2 separate regions of the Homo sapiens genome follow, and region 1 is linked to region 2. The links come from fine-mapping of genetic effects on gene expression. Tissue or cell type: T cells. Region 2 holds a variant in brackets; the other region holds the start of a gene. All regions are shown on one strand. Distances are between the middles of the regions. Region 1 holds the start of ALOX5AP (arachidonate 5-lipoxygenase activating protein). Region 2 has its middle 34 kb from the start of LINC00398.

What was found. PIP is the estimated chance that this variant, and not a neighbour inherited with it, causes the effect.
Region 1: ALOX5AP starts here. The variant in region 2 is the best candidate, but not a certain one, in a credible set for the expression of ALOX5AP in T cells (TOPMed, PIP 0.76).

What each region holds. Positions count from the first base shown.
Region 1 is chr13:30,733,449-30,737,514 of GRCh38, forward strand. ALOX5AP (arachidonate 5-lipoxygenase activating protein) reads left to right here and starts at 2,095. Exons shown (of 5, transcript NM_001629.4): 1 at 2,095-2,227. The coding sequence starts at 2,158. The region is part of intron 2 of LOC124903146 (a long non-coding RNA gene); the gene reads right to left.
Region 2 is chr13:30,767,246-30,771,770 of GRCh38, forward strand. No RefSeq gene overlaps it. Among named protein-coding and RNA genes, the nearest start is that of LINC00398, 34 kb to the right of the region's middle. The variant G/A (reference allele first, on the strand shown) is at 2,541.

The sequences.
Region 1 (4,066 bases), 34 kb before region 2:
ACCTAAACATCCCCTGAAACTTACCAAACTGCAGGTATGAATTGGATCTCACTAAGGTGAATATACAAATCTTGCAAGTGCTGAGCCCTAACCAATCTTGTAATAACTCTGTGGTAGTTAATTTTATGTCAAATTGATTGAGCTAAAAAATGCCCAGGTAGCTGGTAAAATGTTTTTTTCTGGGTGTGTTAGGGAGGGTGTTTCTGAAAGAGATCAGCACTGGAATCAGCGGACTAAGTAAAGAATTCCCACCCTCACCAATATGGTGGGTGTCATCAATCCACTGAGGGCCTGAATAGAACAAAAAGCGGGCAGAAGGGCAAATTCCCTCTTCTTCTTGAGCTGGGCCATCCATCTTCTCCTGCCCTTGGACACTGGAGCCCCTTGTTCTCCAGCTTTTGGATTCAGACTGGGTCTTGCACCATTGCCCTCCATCTTCTCCTGCCCTTGGACACTGGAGCCCCTTGTTCTCCAGCTTTTGGATTCAGACTGGGTCTTGCACCATTGCCCTCCTTGATGCTCAGGCCTTTGAATGCAGACTGGTCTCCACCAGCAGCTTTTCTGAGTCTCCAGCTTGCAGATGGCAAACCATGAAACTTCATGGTGTCCATGAGCATGTGAACCAATTTCTATTATAAATCTGCAATATATATATATGAGGAGACTTATTTATATATTGGTTCAGTTTCTCTGGAGAGCCTTGGCTAATATAAAGTCTATACTCTACAAAGTGCCCTAGGTACTCAGGGAGTACCCAAGTGTGTCATGACCAGCCCGACAGCCCTGGCTGCTGGCTTCCCCGCACACAACTCTGCACGCTGCCTTCATCAGCCTTTCTCTCTCAGCTGAACCGAGGGCATTGAAGCGGGCCTCTGGCACTGTACCTATGAGGGAGCAATATCTTCCCCTACACTGACCTCTTCCGTGCCGAGATGCAGCCCTCCCTGCTGCCACTAGTTACAGTGGTCCATGTTCCCTTTCAAAGTGAAGTTTTGATAAAAGCACCTCTTAACCAATGCCAAATAGCTAAGTCTGGGACAAAGATTGCAGGTATTTTGCATTTTCCATGTAACCTCAGAGGGATTGCCATTCACACTGATCTGAGCTGCAGAATACCAGGCAGCCACCTCACCCACCCAGCAGGTCCACTCTTATACTTTCTCAGAAAGCACAGCCACTCTACTCTTATTCAGTTGAAAAGAATTTCCAGGAAGGTGTTTCTGCGATTGCCTCAGAAAAGTCAGTTCCCTTTGGGAATTTCCCTTAGGGATCATCTGTAACTCCATTTCTGCCTTTTACCTGAATTCTTTGGTTTGGTTTGAATTCTTTGGTTTAATTTATGAATTCCCTTTATTACTTTTCTCTGAAGAAATGGAGATATCAGCTGTCCCTCCCCACTGCCATTTATTCCTTCCTTCATTCAAACCTTATGTGGCTGCTACTTACCGTGTGTTAAGTGTTCACTTTTTTTCTTGGAATTCAAAAAAAGAAGGACAGTATTTGGGGCACAGATCTTTTGGTGTTCTATACATTTTTTTAAAGTTTCATTTTACATTTGTGTGTGCGTGTGTGTGTGTGTGTGAGACAGTCTTGCTCTGTTGCCCAGGCTGGAGTGCAGTGGCATAATCATTGGCTCACTGTAGCCTCAAAGTCCTGGGCCCAAGCAATCTTCCCACCTCAGCCACCCAAAATGCTGGGGTTACAGGTTTATGCCACTCTGTCTGACCTGAAAGTTTTGGGTTTACTTTCCCTTCTTTCTCTTTGCTGAAGTCAGAGATGATGGCAGCTTCCAGATTCTCTGGTGCCTGTGCTGGGCTCGTGCTGGTCATGGTCTTGGGTCCAGGATTCATTCTGGAGACTCTCAGGGAAGTTTCCCATGACAAGGAAATGTAGGAGAGTGTGCTGGCTTTGCGTGCTCCTCTGCCAAGCCCTGCTTCTCCTGGTGGGACACACTGAACCACAGCCAGGGCATTTTGGTGGTTAGTTAAAAAAAAAAAAAAAAAAAAAAAAAGGAAGAAGAAGGCACTGTGTAATTGTGCCGGGGATCTTCAGAAATTGTAATGATGAAAGAGTGCAAGCTCTCACTTCCCCTTCCTGTACAGGGCAGGTTGTGCAGCTGGAGGCAGAGCAGTCCTCTCTGGGGAGCCTGAAGCAAACATGGATCAAGAAACTGTAGGCAATGTTGTCCTGTTGGCCATCGTCACCCTCATCAGCGTGGTCCAGAATGGTAAGGAAAGCCCTTCACTCAGGGAAGAACAGAAGGGGAGATTTTCTTTGATGGTTGTTTGGAAGTCAGGCTTAAACAATTGTGTCTGTGTGTGCGCATGCACAAACACTTTTACCTTATCTTTATTTTCTTCTTTTTATTTGAATGTATAGGGTTGTGTGTATTTCTGTGTAAATTTGGGGTTTTCCTCCTCTTAGTCTTTCACTTTTGTGGTGATTACCAGTCCCATTTTTAGAGCCAGGGCTGCAACTTGAAGGTTTTGCTAAAACCCTCACCGAAGTGTCTATGATCAGCATTTTAACTATTAATTAATGTGGCCAGGCAAGGGGTGGAAGGTGAGAAGACTAGAAAGGGAACATGATATACACATTTACTCAGATACTGGGCTTTTCTAACATCTGCAGTGCAATTGAAGTTACCAGTCATCTGCAGTCTAAAAAGAAAGTGATTTTGGGAGGTGCGTAGAAAAAATCATCTTATTATTTTTCCTCTATATTACTTTTTTCTTTTTTTCTCCTGAAGAAACTTTTTTTTTTGGTGATACCTTCTTTTTCTCTAGCACGTATAATTTTGGAAGCATTTTTCATATGCAGTGTATACTTCAGAAAGAGAGAGAGAGAGAGGAAAATTGTCCTGTTCAGCGTTTGCATTTCCATTATTCCTGCTATTAGTTAAAAACAACAACAACAACAAAAAACAAGCAGGATACCTAGATCTGGAAAAGGGAGAATTGTGTAGAGCTGTCTTCCTAAAGTTCTGAGTTAGGGCTGCCTCAGACCACTTTCATAACTATCTCCAGTGGCTTTGTGTTTTATATTTATTAAGATAGAGAAAAAAAGAGTAATTACTAAGGGCAGCTGCTGTAGCTTTATGGTGATTACTGAACATTGACATGCTGTCACGTTTTTGGAACTTTGAGTATTTAATCACTTTGGGATATTCTATTTTCCCCCATCTTGAGTGTGGACAGATGCTGGTGATGTAGCCTTCTGGGCACAGAGCAAGCCTCCCCCTCAGCCTCTGCACCAGAAAGGCTCAGCTTCACACACTCCAAGTATGTTTTCTACAAGAACTACACTTTGTGGCTTTCTGACCCAAACATTTTTATACTAAATTACACACAACAAAGTTGTAGCTCAGAGAGGGAACAAATGGCTTATTTAGGCCACCATTTTCTTGAGCCATTATGATTTCACACAGGGCTCCCTTGGCCCTGTAAATTGGCAAGGATTCCATTATTCAACCCGCATACATGTACAGAGACCCTGCTCTGGCCCAGATAGTATTCTGGGTACAGGCGGATAGAGCAGGAAACAAAACAGCTACAGTGATGGACAGGTCAGCCTGCAGCAATGCCTGCAGTCTCTGCAAAGGTAGCTGTATGGGTGGGCAGGTGGCTAGCACTTATTCAGCTCTGGAAGGATCTCCCCTCTGGCCTCTCCCCTGACACCCATCAATAAAACTGAGGAGCATCGGTGGACAGGGGACCTTGTGCCCCCTCCCTGCCTGTGCAGTTGGGGCTGAACCCAGCTACGAAGTTTGAGCTCACTCTCTCCAGCTCCCTCTCAATTCAGAGCTGAACTGTGGGAAGCTTCAGAGCTCTCTGTTTCAAGGACAGGTTCTCCTCACCTCTCCTAATGGAGGTGCACCAGGGAACTGGCCCTGCTCTGCCCAGGGCTTTCTCCTGGACTTTGCCATCATGGTCTAGCAAACCCTGTTCAGATTGAGGTGAGTGGTGAGATTTCGAATTCTTTTTGACAGATAGGATTAAGTCTTCTTCTGTGGGACAAGTGGGAGGTAGAGGTAAGATTAAAGATGGCCAAATGTCTGAGTCCTGAC
Region 2 (4,525 bases):
CATAACTTAGTGAAAGGAGTGAAATTGCAACCAGGTTCTGCCTGCACTCCACGGAAGGGGATTCTGCAGAAGTGTGGGTCACGGGGGGGTTATTTTGGGATTCTGCCTACGTCACTGAGTCAAAAGAAGCTGAATGGTTGTGATGCTGAGGTTTTTGGGCAGCAGCAGTGTGTGTGTGTGAGTGAATTCATACGTATGACCACCTGGGAAGAAAGGAGGCTGTGGTTTCCTCCACCTCCTGGCAGACAGAGAAATTTCTTTTTTTTTTTGAGACAGGGTCTGGCTCTGTTACCCAGGCTGGAGTGCAGTGGCTTGATCTCTGCTCACTGGCTCACTGCAGCCTCTGCCTCCCAGGTTCAAGTAATTCTTGTGCCTCAACTCCAAGTAGCTGGGATTACAGACACACACTGCCACGCCTGGCTAATTTTTGTATTTTTAGTAGAGACGAGGTTTTGCCATGTTGGCCAGGCTGGTCTTGAACTCCTGACCTCAAGTGATCCGCCCACCTCAGCCTCCCAAAGTGCTGGGATTACAGACGTGAGCCACCATTAACCATTTTTCTATCTCCTGTGGGAAAGGGCACAGTGAAAGAACAGATGAAGCTGAGACATACAAGTGAACTCCTCCCTCCTCTCCATTTAGACTAAAATAGGATTATTCATACTGAGATTCTCCCTGGTTGCAAAGAGATAATCTGTGCAACTGGGTTTTTACAATTATCCCTACCCTATGCTTTCCTCATCTGTCTTCCTCGTAGTCAGCTCAGGCTGCTATAACAAAACACCATAACTGGGGGCTTTTGAACAACAAAACTTTACTTCTCACAGTTCTAGAGGCTGGAAATCCAAGATCAAGTTTCTGGCAGATTCGGTGTCTAATGAGGTCCTGCTTTCCAGTTTATAGACAGTGCCTTATCGCTACCGCCTTACACAGTGGAAGGAGAGGACGAGAAGCTCCTTGGGCTTTTTTTTGTTTCTTTCTTTCTCTCTCTCTCTCTTTTTTTTTTTTTTAATAAGGTCACTATCTTAGTCCATTTTGTGTTGCTAAAAGGAACATCTGAGGTTGAGTAATTTATTTTATTTTAAAAAGTGGCCAGGCATGGAGGCTTATCCTGTAACCCTAATCCTTTAGGAGGCCAAAACAGCAGGATTGTTTGAGGCCAGGAGTTCAAGACCAGCCTAGGCAAGATAGTGAGACCCCATCTACCCCATCTCTACTAAAATTTTAAAAAATTAGCTGTGTGTTGTAAAGTGTGCTTGTAGTCCCGGCCACTTGAGAGGCTGAGGTGGGTGGAGTTCAAGGCTGCAGTGAGTTATGATTGAGCCACTGCACTCCAACCCGGGTAACGGGGCAAGACCTTGTCTCTATTTAAAAAAAAAAAATCTTTATGTGGCTCACTATTCTGGGTGGCTGGAAAGTTCAAGATTGGGCATCTGCATCTGGTGACAGCCTCATGTCGCTTCCAGTCATGGGGGAAGACGAAGGAGAGCTGGCACGTGCAGATATCACGTGTTGAGGGCAGAAGCGAGAGAGAGAGGGGAGAGATGCCAGGCTCTTTTTAACAACCAGCACTGGGGAAACTAATAGAGTGAGAGCTCACTGACTCCTGAGGGAGGACATTAATCTATTGATGAGCGACCTGCCTCCATGACCCAAACACCTCCAACGATACCCCACCTCCAACACTGCCACACTAGGGATTAACTTTCAACTTGAGATTTAGAGGGGGGAAACTTACAAACTATCGCAGGCACTAATACCACTCATGAGGGCTCCACCTTCATGACCTAATCACTTCCTAAAGGCCTTACCTCTTAATCTCATCACATTGAGGATTCGATTTCAACTTGAATTTTGGGGGGACACCAACATTCAGGCCATAGCATCATCTCAATAACTGTCCCATTGGTGGTCACTCAGGCCCCAAACAAAGGAACCTTCCTCCATTCCTTTCCGCCCTCCCACCCACAGTCAATCATCCCCAAGCTCCATCAGCTCCACCTTTAACGGCCAACCCACCTCTGCCACATCTCACCATCTCCACTGCTATCCCTGTCACCTGGGCCCACCATTCTCTCTCCTGGACAGTCTCCATAGCCACCTCTGTCAGATTTATTTTATTTTTTTATTTTTTTTTTTGAGACAGGTTCCTGCTCTGTTGCCCAGACTGGAGTGCCATGGCATGATCACATCTCACTGCGGCCTCCATCACCTGGGCTCAAGCAATCCTCCCATCTCAGCCTCCCAAGTAGCTGGGACTACTGGCACCACCATACCTGGCTAATTTTTTGTTGTTGTTGTTTAATTTTTAATACAGATGAAGCCTCACTATGTTGCCCAGGCTGCTCTTGAACTCCTGGGCTCAAGTGATCCTCCGGCCTTGGCCTCCCAAAGTGCTGGGATTACAGGCATGAGCCACCGTGCCCAGCCCATCAGATGTTAATGCTACACGCACTTGCTTAAAATCCCCCAGATAATTCTCGCTGCTCTTGGAATAATTCCCACACACCTTGGCGTGGCCATGCAGGCTCTGTGCCATC[G/A]GATATGTCCCTGCCCCCTCTCCCAACTCCTCCTTTCGCTTGCTCGTTCACTCAGTTCCAGCCACATTGCCCTGGGAGCTGCTCCCACCATGGGGCTTCCTAATGCACTGGTCTCTCTCATGCAGTGGGGCCTCTCCCTCCTTTTACTCAGTGTCTCCCAGCACCCACCTCCTCCAGAGCCTTCCCTGACCACCACACCTACACCTAGGCCCTTCCTCCTCCACGCTCCCTCCTCCACCCCGGCCTCCTACCCACGTGTCACTTCTTTATACTCGCTGCCACCTGAAATTAGATCATTTATTTACCCCTTTATTTGTTCAGTTTGCCTTGTCCGTTAGAATATAAGCTTCCAAAGGGCAGGAGCTTTGCCTATATTGTTAGGCCGGGCATACAATGAGCACTCAAAAAAATATTTGATGAGTGTATGAAAGAACAGACTGGGTTATGTAATTGTGCCTACTTACCTATATGACCGTGTGGTGGGGTTTATGGTGGGTGTGGTGGTGATGGCTATAGGGCTATAAGCAAATTTGGGACAGGGAGTCTAAGAAATGTTCTTAAATTTTAGTAAGCAAAGCATCCTCTACAGAACCTGTCTTAAAACATGAAAGTTCCTTAGTGCTACCCCCAGAGGTATGATTTGGTAGGTCAAGGATAGGGCCTGGAAATTCACATTCTTGTTAAGATGTTCTTCATCCGGGGTTTGTTGACCACCTTTTCAGAAGATTTTTGCTCTGTAGCTGTACTACCCAATGCAGTAGTTCGTAGTCAGTGTGGCTCCTGAGCCCTTGAAGTGTAGCTCCTCTGAACTGAGACGTGCTGTAAATGTAAATTGCACACCGGAGTTTGAAGAGTTAATACAAAGAAAAAGGAATGCAAAACATCTCATTAATAATGCTTTACACTGATTACATATTGAAATGGTAATCTTGTAGATATAGTGCGTTAAATAAAATATACTGTTAGGCTTAATTTCACGTCTTTATACTTTTAATGTGGCTACTAGAAAAATTTAAATAACATATTCAGCTCACATTATACTCCTATTGAACAGAGCTGATCTATAAGTTCCATGGAAGATGGCAAGTCTTCGCAGCTGAAATAAAGGCTGGATCCCATTCTACGGGCTCATCTTTAGCAATGATTTCTTGCAGACGATATTGAAAAATGTGGCAATGAAAGTTACCACAAGCATCAAACCAGTCCTGCCTAAATCTGGAAAATAGTTATCTGAGGCTGTTAGCATATGATCATGAGAGCGTTTCACCATGGATTTCTGATCACAGATGTGGCACATTATTAAAATATCACTTTTACAGTCACCCTAGAGGCTAGGGTTATCTGAATATGGAGAAAGAAACAGCTTGTGGAGCTGTTGTATAAATGAAATTACTAGAAAGTAATGCACTCAATTGCATATTGGCTCGGGGGGTTATTCTTATTAAAATGTTTAGAGAGGACTTTCTGTTCATTTCTGCAGAATTGCTCTTCAAATTAAGAATTTGCTTGACACGCTAATAGACCACAGTCCCAAGAGAAGTTTATCCTTTTTTCTTCTTATCCTTGCTAAGCACTTAGATGCTCTGCTGATAGGTAGCATATATTGTCTATATGAAGCTTTTGTGTTAACATTGACTAGTCCTGCAAGTTGGCACACTCTTACTTGGCCTAAAAGAAATCAGCACCAGGCTTTAAGAAAATCAGATGATCTACCTAAAGGAACACAACTCTGTCTCTCTTTTGACAATTGTTGTAAACAAATTTTAATGGAAATTTGCCTTAATTGTGAAGAAGTTGCTGCTAAAATGGACTTGCCATTAATGGACTGGAACCCATTGCATAAGCAGAATGAAATATAAGCCTTCTCAGGATTCACACTTATAAAAAACCATTCAGCCAATCAACAAGAGGGCAAAAGAACAAACATTTGATGTGTAATTACTTAATTTAGTGCATATGCATTTGGGTCCTCAATGTCAGCACTA